Linked DNA regions of Homo sapiens: region 2 is linked to region 1. Evidence: fine-mapped expression QTL. A gene starts in region 1. The other region holds a variant in brackets. All regions are shown on one strand. Distances are between the middles of the regions. Region 1 holds the start of BTBD9 (BTB domain containing 9). Region 2 holds the start of LOC124901315 (a long non-coding RNA gene).

Region 1 (11,209 bases):
AGTATAGAGTACTTACCCACCTGCCTAGGCCATTTAGGCATTAGAATGCTCTGTTGGAGAATGATCAAAATTTGGATTGAAATTTTTCAAAGAAGAAATGATCAGTTGCTCACTCTGACGGTAGGAAAATCTAATTAATGCTCCCATGAAATGTATGGCTTTTAGCAAAGTGGCTGGCCAGTAAATCTACCTGGAAGAATTACTTGCAAAACATACCCTTAAGTAAATAAATTAACGTGGTATTTAGTTACTGGATCTAAGCCAATTAAATTTGAGGACATGTGCCCTAAAAAATTATTTTAGTTTTGGAACAGGTGATCTTGATCCATTCCTTCTGATAAACGGTGAGCAACAAAATCAGCCATAAAGTTTATTATAATAAAATATCATCAGCATATAGGAAGATAATGGGTTTTTTGATTTCTAAAGCGAGGGAGCATGTGTCCAAATAACCTAAAAGTGGTTTCAAATTACTTAAACATAAGTTAAAAACAAGAAGGGCTACAACTATTTTATGCTACCTAAAATACTTTTTGATCCGTCTGAACAATTCTATTGATCTGGACTTTCCAGGTCATACAGAAGTCTTGGTTTTATATGAACCTGGATTCTATATTTAACTCATGCAACTTAACCTGAAACCAGCTCTTATTCACAGAGTCAAAGCATGAGAAATCATTTGAAGCTTCAAACGTTCTTTTAAGAACAAAGTTTATTTTTCTAATTATAAAAATTATCATTGTACATTGTCAACAATTTGGAAAATAAAGAAAATTTACATTATTTTTCTCTCAACTATTTATTTTTAAAAATTTCAAAGCAACAGAATACAGATATGCAGGCCAATTCACCCACTTACAAACGCTGAGCCAACAAATTTACTCAGAGCTTCTTGGCAAAGTGAAAAGTGAAAAACAGGCAGTTATATAATTCACATTGCCTATAAAGAGAAAACACATCAGTTACTCAAGGGTAGCCAAATATTTCATGACTTGTGGCTCAGAGAGAAAATTCTCTTGTGTTCATATGAGGAACACAGAGTGATATCACACACAACAACCTGTCAACTATGCCTTCTAGAATTCCTCAGTATAAGGGAAAGGGTACATAGTATGAAGCCTGGGGGGTTAAAAGCATGGATTCGAATCCTAGCTTTATCACTTATTAATTGTACCTTGAGTAATTACTTAACTTTCTATGCCTTGGCTTCCTGTTTTATAAAATATTGTGAATAATATCACCTACTTCAAAGGGCAGTTATGAGGCTTAAATGAACTAATGCCTACAAAACACTTAAACATAGATAACATAGGTGCAAGTACTATGTATCTGGTACATGGTAAACATCCTTATTATTAAAGTCAACGCTAAAATGAATGTGTGTGCATATGCTAATAGTACAGAGAGAGGGCACTTAAACCAACTAAGGGCCTGAGGGAAGGTTTCCTGGAAAGAGGATGCTTGTGCTGGGTCCAAATCTTGGTCTACTATGACCTTGGCCAAATTATTTAAACTTTGTCCCTATCTGCTAAAACAGATACTTTGTCAGTGATCTATACAATAAGCTAATGTTTACAAAATTAAGTAAGATAATACATGAGGATTAGACAAGCAAATGTATTAAAGCATGGCATTAGTGACAAAAAATATTTCCTCTTGAATCTACTGGAAAAATATAAATTATTCTTGCATTTAACTTTTATTTGTGTCCATTTTAACAACTAACCAATTTTAGTTTAGAAACAGTTATATATAAATATTCATTTAGATCACAACAAAACTACCTAGAAGGAATGTTAGGTGACAACGCTGGTTTAGCACAATTCTCCTGTTCTTTTTTTACCTCCATGGAAATGCCTTAATATATTTGTGTCCATTTTTGAGGCATACTGTGTTTACTTAACAGTGTAGGTAAGTACAACACTCTTGACTTCCATTAGATAGAGCTAACTGCGCCCTTATCTGTATCACTTTATATATCCCTCATTTCACTTCATACAGATTCTGTTATAGTATATTGTATTATACTTACAATATATTTATATCTAGCTTTTAGGGTCTTGCTCTGTTGCCCAGGCTGAAGTGCACTGGCACAGTCATAGCTCACTGTAATCTGGTAATAGCTCACTGTAACCTCAAACTCCTGGGCTCACCCAATCCTCTTGCCTCAGCCTCCCAAGTAGTTAGAACTGCAGGTGCGCACCACCACACCTGGCTAATTTTTAGAAAATTTTTGTAGAGATGGGTGTCTGGCTATATTGCCCAGGCTGGTCTCAAACTCCTGGCCTCAGGTGATCTTCCCATTTTGGCCTTCCAAAGCACTGGGATTACGGGGCATGAGCCACCACAATCAGGTCTATCTTATTATTTTTTATTTTTATTTATTTACTTATTTTAATTTTTTTTTTGAGACAGAGTTTTGCTCTTGTTGCCCAGGCTGGAGTCCAATGGCGAGATCTTGGCTCTACACAACCTCTGCCTCCCGGATTCAAGTGATTCTCCTGTCTCAGCCTCCTGAGTAGCTGGGATGATGGCATATGCCACCATGCCCGGCTAATTTTTGTATTTTCAGTAGAGACGGGTTTTCATCATATTGGTCAGGCTGATCTCAAACTCTTGACCTCAGGTGATCTACCCGCCTCGGCCTCCCAAAGTGCTAGGATTACAGGCATAAGCCACCGCGCCTGGCCTTACTTTTTTTTCTTTTTTTTTTTTTAAAGAACTATGACAGCTAGTTACATACTTAGTATTTCTCTCTCTCTCTCCAAATTGTGAGTTCCTTGAAAACTGTGTTATAGCCATAGTATCTAGGACAGAAGCTGGCATGAAATATACTGATTCTTAGTGGTTGGAAAATGGTCTGAGAAGGATTTGAAGTGTGCTGTTATAAGCAAGTGAGTCTGATATGAAATTGGGGTGATTGAGCCCGGGGGTTGAGGCTGCAGTGAGCCAAGATTGTACCACTGCACTCCACACTGGGCAACAGAGCAAGATGCTGTCTCAAAAATAAAAAATAAAAATAAATAAAAGTATTGAATCAGATATGACAAAAAATAAAAAAATAAAACTGGGGGGATTATCTAGGAATTAATGAGAAAATCATAGACTCAGCTTGATCTCATCCTTTGCCAGATGCGAAAACCAAAGCCTGGAGTAGTTGAGGGATTTGTTCAAAGTTATCTAGCTAGTTAATGGCCAGAATCAAGACTAGAATCTCAAAACTCCCATCAAACTAGTCTAGAGGCCAATCCACTATATTGATCTGCCTTTCAGATCTCAGTGATTTGGTATCTATCTCCACTATCCCACTGAAGTTTGCTATTGTTGGTTACCAATCACTTTTCTGTTGCTAAATCCAGTGAATGCTTTCCAGTTCTTGATATACTTGGCCTTTTTGTGGTCTCTGACTCTGTTGACCCCTCTCCATCTTGCTTGCTTGGCTTCAGAGGCATTAGGCTCACCTAGTTCTCCTTTTCTCTCTCTGGCCATTCTTCCTCAGACTTCTTTTTGGGCTTCTGATCATCTGCACCTCCTTTTAAAGTTAGTGCTCTCCAGGGGCCCTATCCTTGCCTCTCCTTATTATGTCTTCTGTATTTTCTCCCTGATTGATCTCATCCATGCCTCGGGCTTAAATTACCAATTATTAATTTATTTCTTCCAAATCTATTTTAACTCAACCTCTTTCCTCATTCATAGACCTGTACAGTTTGAGTGTTTATTGGACATTTTTCTCTAGATGTGGAGGTTCCATCAGGTCACAGTCATATTGCTATAGTCTCTGAGGGGACCTACTGAATTGTACCCTTCTTTTCCAGGTAATGGAGAAAGCTGCAGGAAACCAACTATTATCTTTATTACTGACTGTATCAGTTTCCTATTGCTGTTGTAACAAGTTAGCACAAACTTGGTACCTTAAAACATACAAGTTTCTTATCTCGCAGTTCTAGAAGTCAGAAGTCCTAAAATCAAGGTGTTGGCAGGGCTGTGTTCTTAGGGTGCTAGAGAAGAATCCATTTCCTTGCCTTCTCCCGCATCTACAATTTGCTTGCGTTTCTTGGGTCCATCTTCAAAGCCAACAGTATAGCATCTTCAAATCTCTGTCTGACCTCTGCTTCCATCATCACATCTCCTTCTCTGACTCTGACCCTCCTGCCTCCAGCCCAGTCAGACAATCCAGGATAATCTCCCTAGATACATCATTTAATCATATCTGCAAAGTCCCTTTTGCCACATAATATAACATATTCATGGGTTCTGAGTATTAGGGTGTGGTCATCCTTTTTTTTTTGGTTGGGGGGGATCATTATTCTGTGTAACACAGCTGACAAAGCTGGTATTAAATATTATCTGTGGACAGACAGCTTCCTAATGCCAAACTCTGGAATTAAATACATATACTCTCTTTGTAGCCCTGGACTAGGCACCCTTGTCCCTACCCACAGGCCCTGCTCCAGAAGAAACGGAAAAGAACACCAGGACAGTTCCCTGAAGATAGTTATCTTTTAAGAGAAAAAGAATGGGATAGATGCCACATGTCCAGTTTCTCCCATTTAAGTTCACCAATCAGGAAGTCACTCCTCTAGGCAAGAGTGAGTTGCAGACAGGTATAAGAGAAACCAGGAGAGTATTACACTAATGGATATCATTCCATATGGAAGAAAGACATTGTGAATGGAGAGTAAATGTTTCCCTAACAAACATATCCATATTTGAACTCATCATCATACTCCACATATCTGGTCATCCTCCTAAGAAATGTCACCATCACTATCTATAATAGTAACTTAGACACTTGTGGATAATCAAGACTCATGTAGCTTGCCATCTTGCTAAATGTTACCACTGTCTACCTCAGCACTCATGCTAGAAACCTGGCCTACTCATTTATCCGCACTCAGTGCTGTGAATTCTACCACCTTAATGGCGCTAACATCTATCCCCTCCTCTATTCCCACTGCCAATGCCTTGTTTAATGTTCTTATCACTTGTCTGGAGTACTGCAATGGCCTAAAAATGGGTCTCCCTGCCCCAAGCCTTGCTTTTCCTGACCATTTTCACTTTCTACTTTTACTCATGAAGCTTCCTTTGCCCGGAATTAAGTCCTTCCCAATTTGTCTCCTCCAACAACTGCAAGGGCGGTCCCCTAGCTTGCTCCAGCGTCGGGGATAACTGACTTTCCTACACCAGCTACAGTCAGACCTGCACCCGGATTTCTAGGACTCTTATCTATGTAGATAGATAAATACATTTTTTTGAGACAGTGTCTTGCTCTCACTGCAGAGGCTGGAGTGCAGCGGCGCGATCACGGTTCACTGCAATCTTGAACTCCCCAGGTTCAAGCGATCCTCCCACCTCAGCCCCCCGAGCATTTGTGACTACAGGCGCGCGCCAACATGCCCATTTAGTTTTTGTCTTTTTTGTAGAGACGGGGTTTCACTATGTTACCCAGGCTGGTGTCGAACTCCTGAGCTCAAGCGATCCGCCCACCTCGGCCTCCCAAAGTGCTGGGATTACAGGCTTGAGCCACCAAGTCAAATGGGCTTTATACTTACAAAGTACCTTTGCATACCTTATTTCATTTTCACCTCACAATTCTCCAGCGTAGGCTGGACCGGTATTATTATGCCCATTTACTGAGAGAGGAAACTGAGAGTCAAGGCTGGGCCAGTCACACCCTGCTGCGAAATTAACGAGCATCACTTAGCAGCCTCGACATTAACCGCGCTCGCGCTCTCATCCCTTTCTGGTCCTACTCCTTGGAGAACCTTCCTGCACCTCCAAGAACTTGCCGATCGGGTCTGCGGCGGTCTGGACGAGGTCACTCCACAGGCGCCCAGGACCTTCTCATCCGTAGTGACGTGCGCCGGTGACGCCATACAGTGACGTGTGGTGACTCGACTTACCCGGAGCCAGGTGCCGGCAGGGCAGCCACACCCTGGGGCCCCCTGTTCTGGAGGGGCAGAGGGTCGGGCCGATGCGAAAAAGCCGCGGAAGCTGCCTTAGGCGACTTTCTGGGCCTGCATCGCCGGACCCAGCAGCCCGCTGTCGATCGGTTGCTAAGTGACGCCAGCGCGCAGTGGCGCGTGCGCGGCCACGGCGGAGTGCGTGAAAGCGGACGCGCGCCGCAGCAGCCGGGGCGGCGGCGAGGACGGCGGCCACGGAAGCGGCCAAGGGGGCGGTGGCGCAGAGAGGGGTGCGGAGCGGGCGGAAGAGGCGTCTGTGTCGCAGCTTGGTCTCAGAGGAGCATCGCTGGGGTGAGTAGCCGGGTCCTTGCAGGGGAGGTGGGGCCTGGCCGCACCTGCGGCGCGGGGACGCGCGCCCCCGCCGTATCCGCGCGCACCGCCCCCCGCCCCTCCGCCGCTTTTTCCGGGGGCGGGGGAGGAGCTGGGACGGGGCCTGACGAGGGTCATTTCTTGGGCCCGGGTGCTCTGGGAGAGCGGTAGCCGTCCCGTTCGCAGTCCACGAAGGTGTAGTGGGAAGTAGACGTTTCGGGGATTCGGGGTGGCTCTACCAGCCTCCCAAAGAGAGGAGTTCGAATCAGGGGCAGCCCAGGTTCCCTAGCAGTCTCGTATCCTGTCTGAGACGACGTTGCCTGGGACTGAGGAGGCGAAACCCGGGACCCCGGGGTGGGGGTTTGGAAAGTTTGGGACTGCTGGGGCCCTCATCTCCCCTGCCCTGGCCAGCCTCTGAGTAGGAGCTGGTTGTTATGGAGAGAGTTGTGAATCAGTGCCTGCGTGCGGCATCAGACACACCCACGACCTTGGGAGGGCGACCTGTCAGTATAGATCCGGGGCAGCCAACCTGTTGCCTAGAGTTTCTAACTTCACATGTATGTGCATGTGTTTCCTTGGCGTTTTAGTACATTGTTGTTACAGATTTTGAGACCAAGGTGCTGATAGGCATCCTCATTTCTTACTTCCTCATAGACTTAGTTATCTTGCTATATTTCCCAGAACCGTGTTGTGCTTTTGTCATTAGTAGATCCAAGGAAGTATGGAAGCATGTTTTGTTTGTTTTTCCTAAAGGCAGTACAGGCTGCTATTTTCTGGGCAGAAAATACGGATTCTGTTCACTGTGTGGGCGGAAAGTGTTGATGATGGGAGAACCCAGCATGTAAAGGTGTAGCTCATCCTCAGCCCTGTGCTGTCTTCTCAGTGCTCTGGACTCTATCATGGGTAGATGTATAGGGGTTGTGGTTACCATACTTGGGAGCGAGGAATATTGGAGACAGGGAAGAAGCCAGTCTTTTCTTTCTGTTGATTAAGGCAATTTGTAGAACCAGTGAAAAGATAGGCTGTACTGAAATCTAATGTTTTGTGTAAGAGGATAGAGGAAAATAAGTTCAAGGTTCTCATTTAGGTCTAAAATTCTATGATTCTGTTTCATAACTGAGAATCTGTAAAGTATGTTACCTCTTGGAACCAGTAATAACCTTGCTTTGTAACACTTATTAGATTACTCGGAATTCAAAGTGTCTTCCTCCCTCCACTGTAATAGCTTTTAGGACAGGAGTCATCTGTGTTTTCCTCCTTGCCCTATGTCTAACACATAGGAAAAATGTGCTTGCCACAGAGTAGGCATGCAATGGATATTTGTTATATAGCACACTATGCTCAAGTGGTGTATCTATGTATAGAAAGCATTGAGTTCAGTCCATCAAGTACTTAATACATGTGCCTCCCTCTGCCCAGTATCATGATAGGTGTGGGAGGAGGATTATGGAGTGAAAAATGACATAGAAGACCTGTCTTTTTTTTCCCTTTGAGAGCAGTAGTCTAGCTAGGAGATGTATAAAATAATTATAAAACCAAGTTAAGTAGCAGGTAACCAGTGCTGTTTGAGGACTATAAATGTGGTAGAAAATCAGAAAAGATAGGATGTGTAGGCTGAGTTAGGGAACTCTTTGAAAGAGGCAAGATTTGACTTGGTCTCTGAAAGAAGTTAAAATTTGTTAGGAAATAAACCAGGAGCTGAGAAAATAATAATGTGAATTTGGTTGTTGGAGGATATACCAAGACGACTTTTATGTCTGGTAACTGGAGCGGAACGTCTCTTATAGGGGAATACTGGAGAGAGATGGCTTAGCAGGTTGGGAAGGCAAAGTGTTAAGGATTAAGGCGGGCTTATCAGCATCCCACTGTTAACAAGATACAGCCTTCTTGTAAGGTGGGATAGAGGTTGTATTAATCAGAGTACAGTCTTTGACAAGAATAAGTGTTATCCTTACTTGAAAGTAAAGGATATTACGCTTGAACCAATATCAGGTTGTTAATATACTTTTGATTTCAATTACTAATTGGAATCGATGCCTCACTAATGTGCATGTATTTTAGGTAGTCAGTGGTGCATGTCTCATTATCTAAAATCTACCTGATGTACTTGGGCCATTGTATTGGAAATTTACTGAAATGATGTACCAATAGTCATCCAGTCACACTCAGTGACATAGTTTTGCTTGGGATTATCTCTCTGAGGTTTGTCTTTACTGCTGATCCTGTAAAATATACAAATGTTAGTTGGGAAAGGAGTCTTTCTGATGAACGATGCTTAAAAATACTGACCAAAGAGATTTCAGAATAATTAAAGACCCTGCTGCTGAATATTGAACCCTTGGTCTTTATTTATAACATCTTCTGTTATGTGAAAATTCTTTTGAGTGGTATGTAAACCTGAAGTTGAATTGCTAACCAAGATGTGTAAAGTTACAACTGCAAATGTTGCATTATTTAACAACTCAGCAGATACTTACTGGGTGCTGGCTATGGCGAGACACTTCGTTGGGTGCTGGGAAGACAAAGAAGTTAAGACACAGTATATGCTCAGCATACTAAGTGTTCATCAGAAGAGATAAACCACTAACCATTATGTGCTGTGACAAATTAATCACTTTTGGAATGAATAATGTGCTGGGGGAGTAGAGTGCTTTGGCTGGAGAAAAAACTGATAGGGAACATGTTGAGAAGAAGGGGATGGAGCTTAGCTCTGAGGGTTAAATAAAATTTCGCCACATGTAGAGGTGGAAGAGAGCATTCCAGGGGCCAGCATAAGCAAAGTTGCTGAATATTAAAATTAAATAGCGCTTTTGGAAATATCTTGAGTTGTTTCTTGTGGGCAAGAGAGGGGAGAGGGCTGAACTCATCTCAAGAACCCATTCCTGAGATAATGAACCCATTCCTGCTATAATGGCATTCATCCATTCATGAGGGCCTAATCACTTCTTATTGCATGGGGGAAGTGATGAGGCAGGAAGCTGTTTTTGGAGCCAAATTATGAGGGGGTCTTCCACTTCATCCTAAAAAGTCTAGACTCCTCCCATCCATTGGCAGTGGAGAGCCATAGAAGGTAGAATAATCAGAAAGTTGACAGTTCGTGTGCAGATTGCATTAGAGTAGAGAGGCAGGGAGACTAGAGTGTAGGTGAGAAATGTTGGACAATGGGAATGGATAGATTTTGGAGACATTTTTAGATGTTAAAATCTCTACATTTATGACCAGCTAGAGGTAAGGGAGAGTGAGAAGTCAAAGATAATATGTCTAGTTTGAGCAACTGTTTGCTTATGATGACATTAAGTTAGAAATCACAGGAAGAGGAACAGGTTTGAAGTGGAGAGAAGAAATAATGGCAGTGTTAATTCTGAGGTTTCTGTGGGGAGTTTAAAAAGAGAGATCCACTAAGTAACTGGAAATGCTACTTCAGAGTTTATGAGATGGTTAGGGACAATTGTAATATAGATGTCCGCTGAGGCTGTGGGAGTAGCAACCTTCTAGGAGGCATGTTAGTATAGTAGTTAACTTAGTGGACTTTGGAGTTAGGAAGATGGCAGGTCAAATCTCTGTTATGCTGTTTATTGGTTGGCTGACCTTTGGCAAGTTATTTAACTTCTCTAAGCCTAGGCTTCTTATCTGAATTAAAGAATTGTGGAGATTATACATGTGCACAGTGATTAACACAAAGGTACTATGTGCACAGTGATTAACACAATGCCTGTCTTATAGATGCTTAATATAATAAATGGCAGCTGTTGCTGTTATTGTTAGTAGTAGTTATAGATGTAGAGATAGTAGGAGAGGCCCCAATGCCAGAAAAATGGAGAGTGAGAACTGGAAAAGATGGTGAATGGAACTTTTGGACGTTTAAATCAGTATTTAAACTTGGATCAGTTCTTGTCTTTGTTTTGTGCTGCTATTTCATATTTTATGTTTCATAATGGCAGCACAAAACAAACTAAGACAAGAACTGATCTAAGTTTAATTTATAAAGAACAGTCTGGTTAATTTATAAAGAACAGAAATTTATTTCCTGATAGTTCTGGAGGCTAGGAAGTCCCAGATCAATGTGCCAGTATCTGGTGAGGGCCTTCTTGCTGTGTCATAACATGGCAGAAGGCATCACATGGGTGAGAGAGAGAGGGAAGGGGGCTGAACTGATCATGTCAACCTATTCCCACTCTACTGGCATTAATTCATTCATGAGAAAAGAGTCTTCATGGCCTAATCACTAAAGATCCCACCACTCACTGCTGTTGCATTGGGGAATCATGTCTCCTCTAACACATGGAGGACACATGCAAACCATAGTAGTTCTAAAATTTGAAAATGCATTGGGTAGACCTGGAGGTGGCCAGGTGTGGTGGCTCATGCCTGTAACTCCAGCACTTTGGGAGGCTGAGGTGGGTGGATCACTTGAGGTCAGGAGTTTGAGACTAGCCTGGCCAACATGGTGAAACCCTATCTCTACTAAAAATATAAAAATTAGCTGGGTGGGGTGGTGCACACCTGTAATCCCAGCTACTCAGGAGGTTAAGGCAAGAGAATCGCTTGAACCCAGGAGGTGGACATTGCAGTGAGCCGAGATTAGGCCACTGCACTCCGGCCTAGGTGACAGAGCGAGACTCCATCTCAAAAAAGAAAAAAAAAAAGAAATAGCTGGAGGCTTTGGTAAAGCACAGATTTCTGGGTCCCACCCCCATAGTTTCTGATTAAGTAGGTGTGGACTGGGGCTTGAAAAATTGCATTTTTGAACAAGTTCCCAGGTGATGCTGATGGTGCTGTTAGAGGATAGATGAAAGAAAAGGAACCAGCACTAACAAAGTGGTTGAAGTGTATGGAGAACCAGGAGATAGTTTAGAGAAGAATAAGAATTTTAACAGCCTCCAGACTCTCTAGGTCTACCAGTCTGATTTCCAATTTCGTAGAGCTTATCTCATTCT
Region 2 (11,209 bases), 460 kb after region 1:
TGATGGTTATGAGAGAGTCTGGAAGCATTCGGTTGCACAAAAATATAGGCTGGGGGAGAGGCAGTGAAAGCTGAGCCATCCAAACAAAAACTTGGATTTAAGGATTATACCTGCAGATAATGATCAAAGCCAGGTGCCTCAGAAGAGCCAGGCTAAGAAGAAAGGGGTGTGGAGGCTCTAGAAGCTGGTTCCATGAACCAGCACTGGGCAGGCAGGGAGGCAGAGGATGCACTGAGGGGAGCGAGCAGTGAGTGGAAGGAAGGGAGGGGGCCTCGGCACTGGTGCCAGCTTCACCTCCAGCCAGCTGTGTGGCCCCAGTGTCATTTTACCTCCCTGCCTCTCAGGACACTTGCCTTTGAAATAAGGAGAGTGAACTAGATCTTAAAGCTTCCTTCCCAGTGAGACAGGAAAAAAGGCAGAAAAATATTTAGTTTGTTTCATAATTATAAAAGAAGACCTTTTAGGCCGGGCGCGGTGGCTCACACCTGTAATCCCAGCACTTTGGGAGGCCGAGGCGGGCAGATCACGAGGTCAGATCGAGACCATCCTGGCTAACACGGTGAAACCCCATCTCTACTAAAAGAATTAAAAAATTAGCCAGGTGTGGTGGCGGGCGCCTGTAGTCCCAGCTACTCAGGAGGCTGAGGCAGGAGAATGGCATGAACCCGGGAGGCGGAGCTTGCAGTGAGCCGAGATCGTGCCACTGCACTCCAGCCTGGGCGACAGAGCAAGACTCTGTCTCAGAAAAAAAAAAAAAAGAAGACCTTTTGTGGGCTTCTTTATATTTAAATGTTTGTTATGAAAGATTTTATTGGAAAAAAAGAGAGGAAAAGCAGGACAACATTGAGCACATATGGTTGTTTCAGACACTGCACAATCCTTAGACCTGTCATATTGGAGCAACAATAATTCTCCATCCTCAACTGGCCTGGGAGAAAGTGACCCCAGACCTGGGCAGATGAGTACCCAGGAGCCTCCCAGCAGTGAGACGCATGGAGACAGCAGCTTGTGAGGGTCCCCTCAGATGTGTCCCATTGCTGTGCCAGCAGTGAGGGGTGATGCTGGAAGCCTCGACGCAGCTGGAGCCCTTTGAGACAGAAGGTACATGCGGAGCCTGGTCACACAAAGTGAAGAACCGCCCAGGCAGCTGGAGACACATGGGCCAGCCCTGTGGGGAGAGCAGGGCCATGGCTAGGCTCTCTTGGTGCCTGTCTGGTGTGGGAAGGGGGCCCTGGTGAGGCCACATCTATCAGGTGGGGAGATTCAGGCATCCCAGAAGCCTGCGAACAAGAACACTTCCCTTTTTTTGTTTCTTAGTTTTTCAAAAAAATAACTAAAAGATACCTCTACCACTCTATAGCCGAATCCATTAAGACAAGAAAGTAACTCTCTCCCTGGAACTCTGGAGTGTACACACATAAAAAACAGGGCAGGAATTCCAGGGCTGCCTGGGGTGATAGGGATTGGAAAGCCTCTTCTTCCAGAACCTTCCAAGCATCAGAGTTCCAATTATCTGTGGATATCCTGGCCTATGTGAATATGAGAAAATGATATTGTAAAGTTTTTTTAAAAGCTGTTGCCGTACATAAGCATTGTCACCCAGAAACTTACCTCCATACTTAGTGCAAAAATATTTGGGTATCCTATCACCCTAAGCAATACTGAAAATTTGTTGCTCGCAATTTGGAAATGTCTCCCTATGAAGTAATTCCTAGTTTTGTTTTTTGTTGTGTTTGTTTGTTTGTTTGTCTTTGAGACAGAGTCTCGCTCTGTCTCCCGGCTGGAGTGCAGTGGCGCGATCTCGGCTCACTGCAACTTCCGCCTCCCACGTTCAAGCAATTCTCCTGTCTTAGCCTCCCGAGCAGCTGGGATTACAGGCATCTGCCACCACACCTGGCTAATTTTTGTATTTTTAGTAGAGACCAGGTTTTGACACGTCGGCCGGGCTGGTCTCGAACTCTTGACCTCAAGTGATCCGCCTCTCTCAGCCTCCCAAAGTGCTGTGATTATAAGGTGTGAGCCACCATGCCCGGCCCCTAACTGAAAACAATGTGTTGGGCTGTTCAGATGCACATAAAAAACCAAGGTTTATCAAAAGGGATATTTTGTTGGAGGCACTCGTCTTCATTTTTAAAGAACAAAAACAAAACATCTCTGCAGTCTGTAGATGGACTGTTACCTTCTGCTCTGAGGCGAGCATAAGAGAGATGTTAATGGTGACCATCGTCAGGATCTGTTATGTCACTGAACGCTGGGTGGGTGTGTGATGCCACCACATCAGCCACTGTGAAAGGGAAATAGGGGATCTTTAGGGGAGTGTAAGTTAGAAGTCATGGCTTTGCATCTGACTTATGGACAGACATCAAGAGGTAGATATCTATTTTATAAAGATTTGTCAACTTGTATTTGTAAGTTGAAAACTTGGATCAGAAATCCTATTTGTATTGGTTGGCATGAAAGCAGTCTGTGGAAATTATTCAGGAGGAACCAGGAAAGCAAGGCAGAGTCATTGATCAACATTTATTAAATTTCCCCAATTTCTGCTGCAGTTCACAGTGGACTCTTAGGCCAACTTGGGAAAATTAGCAAAGGCTTCTGCTTTTAAAAACCTTGAAAATTTGTCAAGCAAATAGTGCTTAGGGAATCCCTCTAATGAGAGGCAGCAGCCACCAAGCCACTGAGGAATTAGCCTGGTCACCAAGAAGGGGCTAGCACATTTGTGTACATCCTGTCCAGGATTCACGGGGAAAAGAACACCCAGCCTATCTCCAGTATGTGGTGAATTATGGCTCCCAGAGAGGCAAGGCAAAGTGATCATAAACAGCAGCTACAGAAAAGGACACCCGATTGTGACTGAGGCTGTGTCGGATTCATACACACGACCACATTCCAAATTAGCCGGCTTCTCTCAGGGGAGAGATCCAGAGGCCATTGAAGACGGTTCAGCGAAGGCGCCCCTTTGTGAGCAGCGGCAATCAAACAGGCTAATGGGATACATGATTGCTGAAAAGGGGAAGGGAGACTGATGCGGCGGCCAGAGTAATGGTTTTGCATAAATGAGTAGTGCGGCTCTGCCCAGTGTGTCTCAGCCACATTTGGTCACGTCCTTTCCAAGAGGTATTGCAGTCTTGGGAAAGTTTGGAGAAAAGAAATTGAATCACTTGAGCTTCTGAGCAAAGAGACTCAGGACTTGGCTGTTCCACCTAGAGGGAAGCCCAAAGGTGCCTGGTGGAAAGAAGTGGGCTGAGGAGCTTGGGGTTACGGTGGGAAGGGGAGGGCCACATGCCCAATATTTCCAGATTTCCCCCCTACCATGGCAGTGATGACTTCCTCCAAGCTGCCATCACCCTCCTCCAGCTCCTGTGTATAAAAAGCACTGCCGCCTCCCTTCCCTCACACTCCTCTCCAAGGGCCGGAGGCAGCTTCACGCCCAGCCCCAGCAGCGTGGCCACCAGTGAAGGTGCCAGTTTCCCCACGACAGGCTTGCTTTTCACTCCCGCTCCCAAGAACAGAATCGGGACCACCCACAGGCCCCCCCGAATGCCCATTTGCATTGCGTGCAAATCTGAGGATTTCTGGGATCCCAGGAGAAGTAACCCCAGCCTCGTACATGTTGATGGGCATCCGAGTGGTCCAGGAGCTAGCTGGGTATTGGCTTACACAGTTGCCACATTTGGCTGAAGGCTGCTAGGCTTAAATCATCAACAGAGATGACTGAGGCAGGCACACTGCTCCACAGAGGGGTGACCAGAGTGAATTACAGACAGGCTGCCAGGAGTGAGGTGCCAAGGCCCAGATCTTTATGTGGAAATCTTCTCCTCGTTCCCTTTGCCTGGAAAGCAGCTCCCCTCCCTGCCTCCCAACCCCTCAAGGCCTCACCTGTGCACACCTTCCTCTCTGTAGCCTGCCCTGACCCCTCTTCCAGGCAAAATTAGTTTCTCACACACCTCTGATGTATGAAATATTACTGATCCCGTGCTGGTAGAATTGTTTGTGTGAGGCAGGTATGTTGATACAGTGGAACAGTCCAGGCTTAAGGAAGGCACAGCCCTGAGGTTCATTCCCAGCCTGCCACTCGCCATTTGCAGAAGAGTGAACACAGGCCCCTGCACAGAGGTGCCTCTGCCCCCAACTGCCTGAGAGGTCCTGAGGGCAGGAGCTGCGCTGTGGGCGCACCTGCTGGAGTCTGCACTCAGTGAAATCATTGCAGGGAAAGGGTCTGTGAGAGTCCTTGGCATGAGTGCAGGTCTGAGCTGCTGTAACTGGAGCCCTGGGACCTGCTGCTGCCACCTTCTGTAGCACCGCAGTATGCCCGCCCCCGTCCCTTCCAGGGAACCCTGAGAGTCATTGTGGGCGCTCTCCTTTATCAGTCTCATCCAGTCTGTTACCAAATTCTGATCTTTCTTGATTTGAAAATGACTCCTGCCTATTGATTCCAAATTGCTAAATCAGGGGATTCCAAGGTTTAAAGGTTTGTTGTCATCTAGATTTTTAAAATACTTGTTATTTGAATTTGTCACCACAAATGTATATTCCTTTTTAAATAACTTTTTTAGTTTAAGAAATATTAGTTTTTAAAGAGTCTCGTAGGCTGGGCATGGTAGCTCACGCCTGTAATCCCAGCTCTTTGGGAGGCTGAGGTGGGCGGATCATGAGGTCAAGAGATCAAGACCATCCTGGCCAACATGGTGAAACCCCATCTCTACTAAAAACACAAAAATTAGCTGGGTGTGGTGGCACGTGCCTGTAGTCTCAGCTACTTAGGAGGCTGAGGCAGGAGAATCGCTTGAACCTGGGAGGCGGAGGTTGCAGTGAGCTGAGATAGCCCCCCTGCACCCCAGCCTGGCGACAGAGCGAGACTCTGTCTCATAAATAAATAAATAAATAAATAAATAGCCTCCTTTGTCCAAGAGTATCAGGATCCCTGCCCAGCTTAAGGCCAGGCCCTCGCCCTGTCCCATTGGGTGTGGCCTCTGCCCCACCCCTCCCCCCCACACCCTGCTGCTCCCAGGCCCTCCTTGCTCTGTTGCCACCCTTTGGCTTGAGAACCTGTGTAGTTCTTCCTGTTTTTCTTCCACACCAAGTCCCCCCCTCCTCCATCCTCTCTAGCTTGGCTGCCTCTTCCTTCCAGACTCACCTCAGATGTCTCCTCCCCCAGGAAGCCTTCCCTGACCGCCTGCCTGGCTGGGTCCCACTCCTCTATGCCCTGGGGCTCCTTCTCCCTGGCTTATGTGTCTGCTGGCCTCACTGGACCGTACACCCTCTGAGGGCAGCTGGGACCTCGCCCAGTCAGGCACGTAGGAGGTGCTTCATGCTTGTGGTACGTGTGTACCTCCTGACCCTGCTCACGTGTGCAGCGTCATCCTCTGGCCGTGTCTGCTGCATATGTGATGTTCATCCTGTCTCTGTTGGTGTGCAGAGGCTGTTCCCTCCCCACCTGTCACCTGTAGCTTGCCCACCCCCACCCATGGCAGGTTCTGTGTCTTCACCCGCCTATCCATTTGTAAAAACACTCTTTTCCACTTAGAATCTTCGCCACACAGTTTGTGATTTAATACAGGTAACTCACTCCTGCCTGTGTATTGCCTTTGAATCTGGCAGCACCTGCGTGGCTTGGTGGAGATGCTCAGGGAGACTGCACTTCATTTAGTTGGGATTCTGGGGCCACAGACTGGGACGCAGCTCTGAGATGGCCCCAGTTCCTTGCAGAGCCACAGGGAGCTCAGTCAGGCAGTTACGGCCTAGGGCTTCCAGGGGCTTCCAGGGTCCCCTAACTTGATGGCAGGGCCTGCCGTGAGCTCTGTGGCATCAGGGAGAGAGATAGTTAGGAGTTCTTTAGAAGAAATATCCATAGGAAAACACAGAAGCAGTTGAGATTGGCTGTCAGTCTTGTTAGGTGTGTTGGGAGTAACAGCCATTTGCATTATTATCTGAAAACAAATTGGCTAATGGGCTAAACACAGTTGTGCCCTTAACACTGCCCAAGTTAGACAAGAGATAAATGCAGCTGGAAATGAGAAGAAACAATGAGAACCAGGGCACCGACAGGTCGGGTCGTGGAATGTCTATCACGTGCTCACCACAGACAGCATCTCTTCCCAGGCTCTTACCAGCGCAGTGCGGAGCAGAGACCCGCCCTGATCCCTCCTCCAGTGAGAGGCCGGCTGTGAAGAGCAAGCCGCAGCACCAGGCCACTCTGAGGTCTTTTTTAACTTTATCTCTCAATCCAGGGTTTTTATCGATTTGTTTATTCTTGTGCAAGAACCCGAGCAGGTAGAAGGACGACTAAGCCTTGGTCCTTGAGTCAGATCGGAGCTGACAGATCAGTAGAAGGAGGCAGGCAG[C/T]GGGGTGGGCCACGGAGCGGGAGGCACCCTGAAGGCTTGCGGGGCCGGTGGGGGAAGAGCTGGCCTGGAAATTAACAGGACTGTAGAGAACGTTGCAAGAGCAAAAGGAGAGAAAAACCATTCAATACCAGAGGAGTGAGCTTGAGAAAAGGTAATAAGGAGTAGGACAAACGTAAGTCAATTCCAGGATTAGTGTCAGCCTGAGGCTCTGGGGAGCGGCCTCCGGAGATATTGACCGAGCAGGGAGAGCAGGGATTACACAAATAACCAATTAAAGAACATGGTGGGGCCGGATAAAGAGCTCCTGTGTCAGCAGGGGGAAGGAGCAGTAAAACACAGCCTGTCCTGAAAAGTCCTGCGTGTGGGCGTGGGAACAGAATATGGCTCTGGGTCATACTGCAAAAGAGAAGGCGTATTTGCTGGGTTATGAGAAGCTTTAGTGGGGGGGGTGTTGAGGACCGGGACTGCACTCTCAAGGCGTGTCCTGGCCCCGCAGAGCCTGACCTCACCTATCCCTGGGTGTGGAAGAAGGAACACTTATAAGGCAAGTGACCCATGAGTGGCCGACATGCCCAGGGCGGTGTTGTTACTGAAGAGCTGCAAGATTGTGAAGCTGATGAAGGAGTGGATTAATGGTTGTCACCTAGAGGATGATTCTCAGATTCCCCTGGCCTAGCCCAGGGCAGAGCTGATGGCCCAAATAGTGTTCAGATCTCCACATAAGGCCTTCCCCTAGGACCTAGCCCCTCCAGTTGTTGACTGGTAAGCCCTGCAGATGGACCCACAGAAGGAGATTTTATAAAAAAGGAAGGAAGGAAAGAAAGGAAAAGGAGGGAGACATAGGCTAAGTGGGGACAGCTTCAGCCGTGAGGCAGTGAGGGGTCTGCAGGAGGCGAGGACCGTGCCTGAGCCCCTGCCCTATAAGGAGAGAAATCAGCTCCCTCTAAGAGAAAATGGCAGCTCCCAAAACAGAGTGGACACACCAGGAAGACACGGTCTCAGTCTTCATATGAGAAAATGTGAAATTTAAAACAGTGGTCAATAAATGAATTGAAGTGGGAATATGGAAAAAACAGTGATGCAGGGAGGTAAGCGTGGAATTTATATTTTCAATATAATTCTGCAGTTGATACTACATTTGTCTCTGTGAACTTGATTCTACGGTAGAAGGCCGTGTGTATGTATGTGCACACATGCTCGTGCAGTGGCAACGACAGCCCCCACCCCGCCCTTCTCTCCTGCACCCCACAGCTCACACATGCATGTCAGGACCCCCCGAAGCACGTTGTCTACTCTCCAGGTCAGGGCCATGGCTTACCCTTGCTTGCGGGGCGCTGAGCTCGGTGCTGTGCCCTGTCTGCACAGTGCTGGCACGGTGTTGGCACAGAGTTCATGGTGCTTCCAGGCTGACCTGCTGTCAGGTATGCAAACTCTTCTTAGCTCCTAGAGGGTGACTGTCGGCCAGGTGGCTGGCTTCTACACATTGGGGGCGTTTGTTCCAGGCTGGCTGGAGCCACATGAGGTTGAAGTCCACTCCCCAGCACGGCTGCTTAGCAGGGTCTGTGCTCAACCATTGCAGGGCCAGGAGAACTATGCATCAGGAACCAGCTCAGGACAGGACACCATGCCATTGCAGGGCACGCTCACACACATTCACATGCACTCAGACTGGGACCCTGCAGACACACCAATGAACCTCAAGTGCACAGCTTTGGGACGCGGGAGAAAACCAGAATACCCAGAGACAACCCACGCAGATGCCACACAGATGGTGGACGTTATCTGTGGACCTGCTTTCCACAACCTCACAGAATCGAACCACCACCACCACCACCACCAGTCAACTCCTGTTGACTTTTAACCCAACTGCCAAATACAAAAATTAATTAAAAAAGAAAAAAGAGCCCATTAGACAAAGGTTGGCAAAAACGGAGTAATCCAGTGTGAAGATTTTGTGGGAATCCGTGTCATGGTGTCTCTAACTTTTGGGCCACTGGCTCATTTCCTTTCCTCTTGACTGATCAAAATGTGTTTACAGCATGCTAGTTGCCATCAGGTGTCTGCGCCGGGGCAGGCGTGGGCAGTGGGAAGGACCTCCTCTAACTCCCTCGTGGTGGCCCCCAAAGCTGGGCAGGGCAGTATCCCAACTTGCGGCAACTCCAGGGCCGCATGCTGACCCTTCACTCATGGGGTCTTTTCCTTTTCTCTCCCAGGTGTTCCACTGTGTCCACTTTGAGTGTCCAGAGCAGCAGAGCAGCCAGAAGGAGGAAAATAGTGAGGAATCGGGGACAGGGGACACCAGCCTGGCCGGTCAGCAGCTCGACTCCCATGCGCTGCGGGCGCCTAGTGGCAGCTCACTACCCTCCAGCCCAGGCTCCAACTCACGCTCCCCCAACCGGCAGCACCAATAAAGGAGGCAGCGGGCCTGGTGTGACTTGGTGGGCTCGGGCAACGGCAGGAAACGGTCTCCTCCCTGAGCAGGGGTCTCTGTTGACTGCCCCCACCTCTGCCCCTTTCCAGGGAGGAGCCGACCTAGCTGCAAAAGCAGACACCGAACAGGTTTTCTCCCAAGGACAGAAAGGGGCTGCTTTGTTCTTCTCAATTTATCCAAATCAGGCAGGTCTCAAGGGGGAGAAAATGGGTCTTCAATCTTCATCAAGTCCACCATTAACACCCTACCTCTCTAATCTAGCCCAGGCGCAGGGAACAGGAGGAAGTCATAGACAGGCCTGTGTTGGAATACAAAAATGGCACGCAAACACTCAGGCGGAGGAGAAAGCCATTGGGCCTTTGCTACCTGGAGGCACCCTTTAGGAATGGGCCTCCATAGAGTGTTCATTCTGCTGGAATACATTGCCCTGGCAACTAAATGATTTTTTATTTGTTTTAGTTATTCTCCACTCAGTGAATCATAGGTGTTCCGGATCTATTTGAAATGCTCAAACAGCAAATCACTAGTTTTAATCCCTTTTGATGCTATAATTTTCCTTCCTTGGTTTTGAACGGTTCAGCTTGCGGGGACAGAGACCCATCGTGCATGTCTCCTAAATGAGACACGGATGCAGCTCATCCTGGCACTTGGGCCACAGAGGAAGTGCCACAAATGCACACAAGCAAATCAACCTGTGGACACTGGAGTTAATAGTCACTCGTGTGGCTGAGTTACTCACCTGTCATTCCTGACATGGATCCAGCCTTTAAGCTTGGGAGGCTGACAAGGAAATAGTTACTATGCCCGCTGCTAATTCACTGTTCCGAAGTCCATGTAGATAAACATATACCGAGTTCTGGCGTGGCCAAACCTGCCGGGGACTGCCGTGGCTTAGCTGCCCCTCCAGTTGTGTTTATCGAAGCATTGGAGAGGCAGCCACCTGCCCATCAGCGTCAGGAACGCAGAACTGGGACTCCGTGCTTCCCCCACACCACAGTACTCAACTGGGGACTGAAAAATAGCAGTTCCAAGAAGCTTTTCTCCTAATCCTCATCAAAAGGACCTCATTTGACGATGGTGGCTTGATGTGGCTCCGTCTCCTACTTAGTGATTTCCATTCCAGTGCTGCCTGCCCTGGGTAACTGCGCACAACATTGCCTGCCCCTCCGCTGTCCCCAGAGCTCCGGCCTCTGTCGCCATCAGCATCAGCCTGGGAGTCTCCCCAGGACGGCATGGCACGTGAGCAGCACTGCAGTCCTTGGGTCTTCGGCGCCAACCTGCAACCCTGATCAAAGGAGGGTGAGGGCGTGGGAGTTTCCTTTCAGGTGTGTCAAAGACATATCAGCTGCGCTCTAGAAAGAGCCAACGGGTCAGCCGCTTCCTCCTAGTTTAACTTGATTTTGAGTGATTTGTCCATATGGAAATAGTAGGGTAGCATCAAACTGCGTGATTAAATTGGAAGACTGTCTTTCCGTGTGAACACAGGATGGCAGACATCAGAGGGCTACCGGGGCAGGGTGGACACGTTCCTGAGGAGAAGCCAGGGTCTGCAGCTCTCCATCCTCCCCGGTAGCTCCAGCTGCAGGGCTGAGCTGCTTCCTATCCCCTCAGCTCTGATCTCTGCCACTTCCCTGTTGTGTGGGAGAGTGGAACACTCCTGGGATGCCAGGCATTTCATAATGGGAGGAGGCTCCTGTAAGGAACGGTGGGCGCCCGCTCACAGTGGGGGGCCCTCCAGCATGGTTGCTGACTCTGTCAGCCCCCAGCCCCGGGTTGCCAATTAGCCAGAGAGCTCCTGCACACACAGCACTTCCTTCCCCAGTGTGTTTTCTACCCAGATGGGGACAAAGGAGCCAGACAGTCATATCAAGGGCAGAGTTCAAACATTTTGAAATGAGCCATTCACATGCTTCTTTTTAAACATGGGCATCACCTGCCCAGAGGCCCTTGGCCTGAAGCAGCATGCTGCTGACCTTGGGAAGAGAGGGTGGGCTGGTGGGGGTGCTGGAGGAGCTGCCCGGCCCTGCATCTGCAACCCTCCAGTCCCCTGCCCACAGAGCACGCAGAGCCCTCCTGTGCTCCGGGAACGAGATAGCAGCTTGGCAGCTCGGCCTCGCATCTGAAAAGGAATACGCTGCAAAGCCTCGGCCCTAGACCCACATCTGCAGCTCCCTGGCCTGTGGCGGTTCTTTCCTTCGGGGCATGCCCTTCCAGATCTCTGTCCCTCCTGTCTTCTAGCACTTTAAAGATGCCCCTTATCATCAGATAAAGAGAAGTATGGGGACGATGGGGTGGCACTAACAGTAGATGTCATTGGTGAGGACTGATGGCAAAGTCTCATTCCCTCACAGCCGCGCTGCCAGCTCGCCTCCCCCTCGCTTTGCTGGGAGCCTGCCCTGGACTCCAAAAGGACACGGGTTCACCTCCTTTCCCA

What was found.
Region 2: its variant is fine-mapped to the expression of BTBD9 in stomach (GTEx, PIP 0.98).

The regions. Positions count from the first base shown.
Region 1 is chr6:38,634,845-38,646,053 of GRCh38, reverse strand. It overlaps BTBD9 (BTB domain containing 9), which reads left to right and starts at 6,125. Exons shown (of 11, transcript NM_001099272.2): 1 at 6,125-6,254. LOC105375044 (a long non-coding RNA gene) reads right to left here and starts at 5,659. Exons shown (of 3, transcript XR_926767.4): 1 at 5,570-5,659. RefSeq lists enhancers at 5,783-5,862, 5,663-6,163 and a silencer at 6,263-6,462.
Region 2 is chr6:38,172,531-38,183,739 of GRCh38, reverse strand. BTBD9 (BTB domain containing 9) reads left to right here. Exons shown (of 11, transcript NM_001099272.2): 11 at 8,558-11,209. The coding sequence ends at 8,755. LOC124901315 (a long non-coding RNA gene) reads right to left here and starts at 8,562. Exons shown (of 2, transcript XR_007059571.1): 1 at 7,663-8,562; 2 at 1-6,424. The variant C/T (reference allele first, on the strand shown) is at 6,345.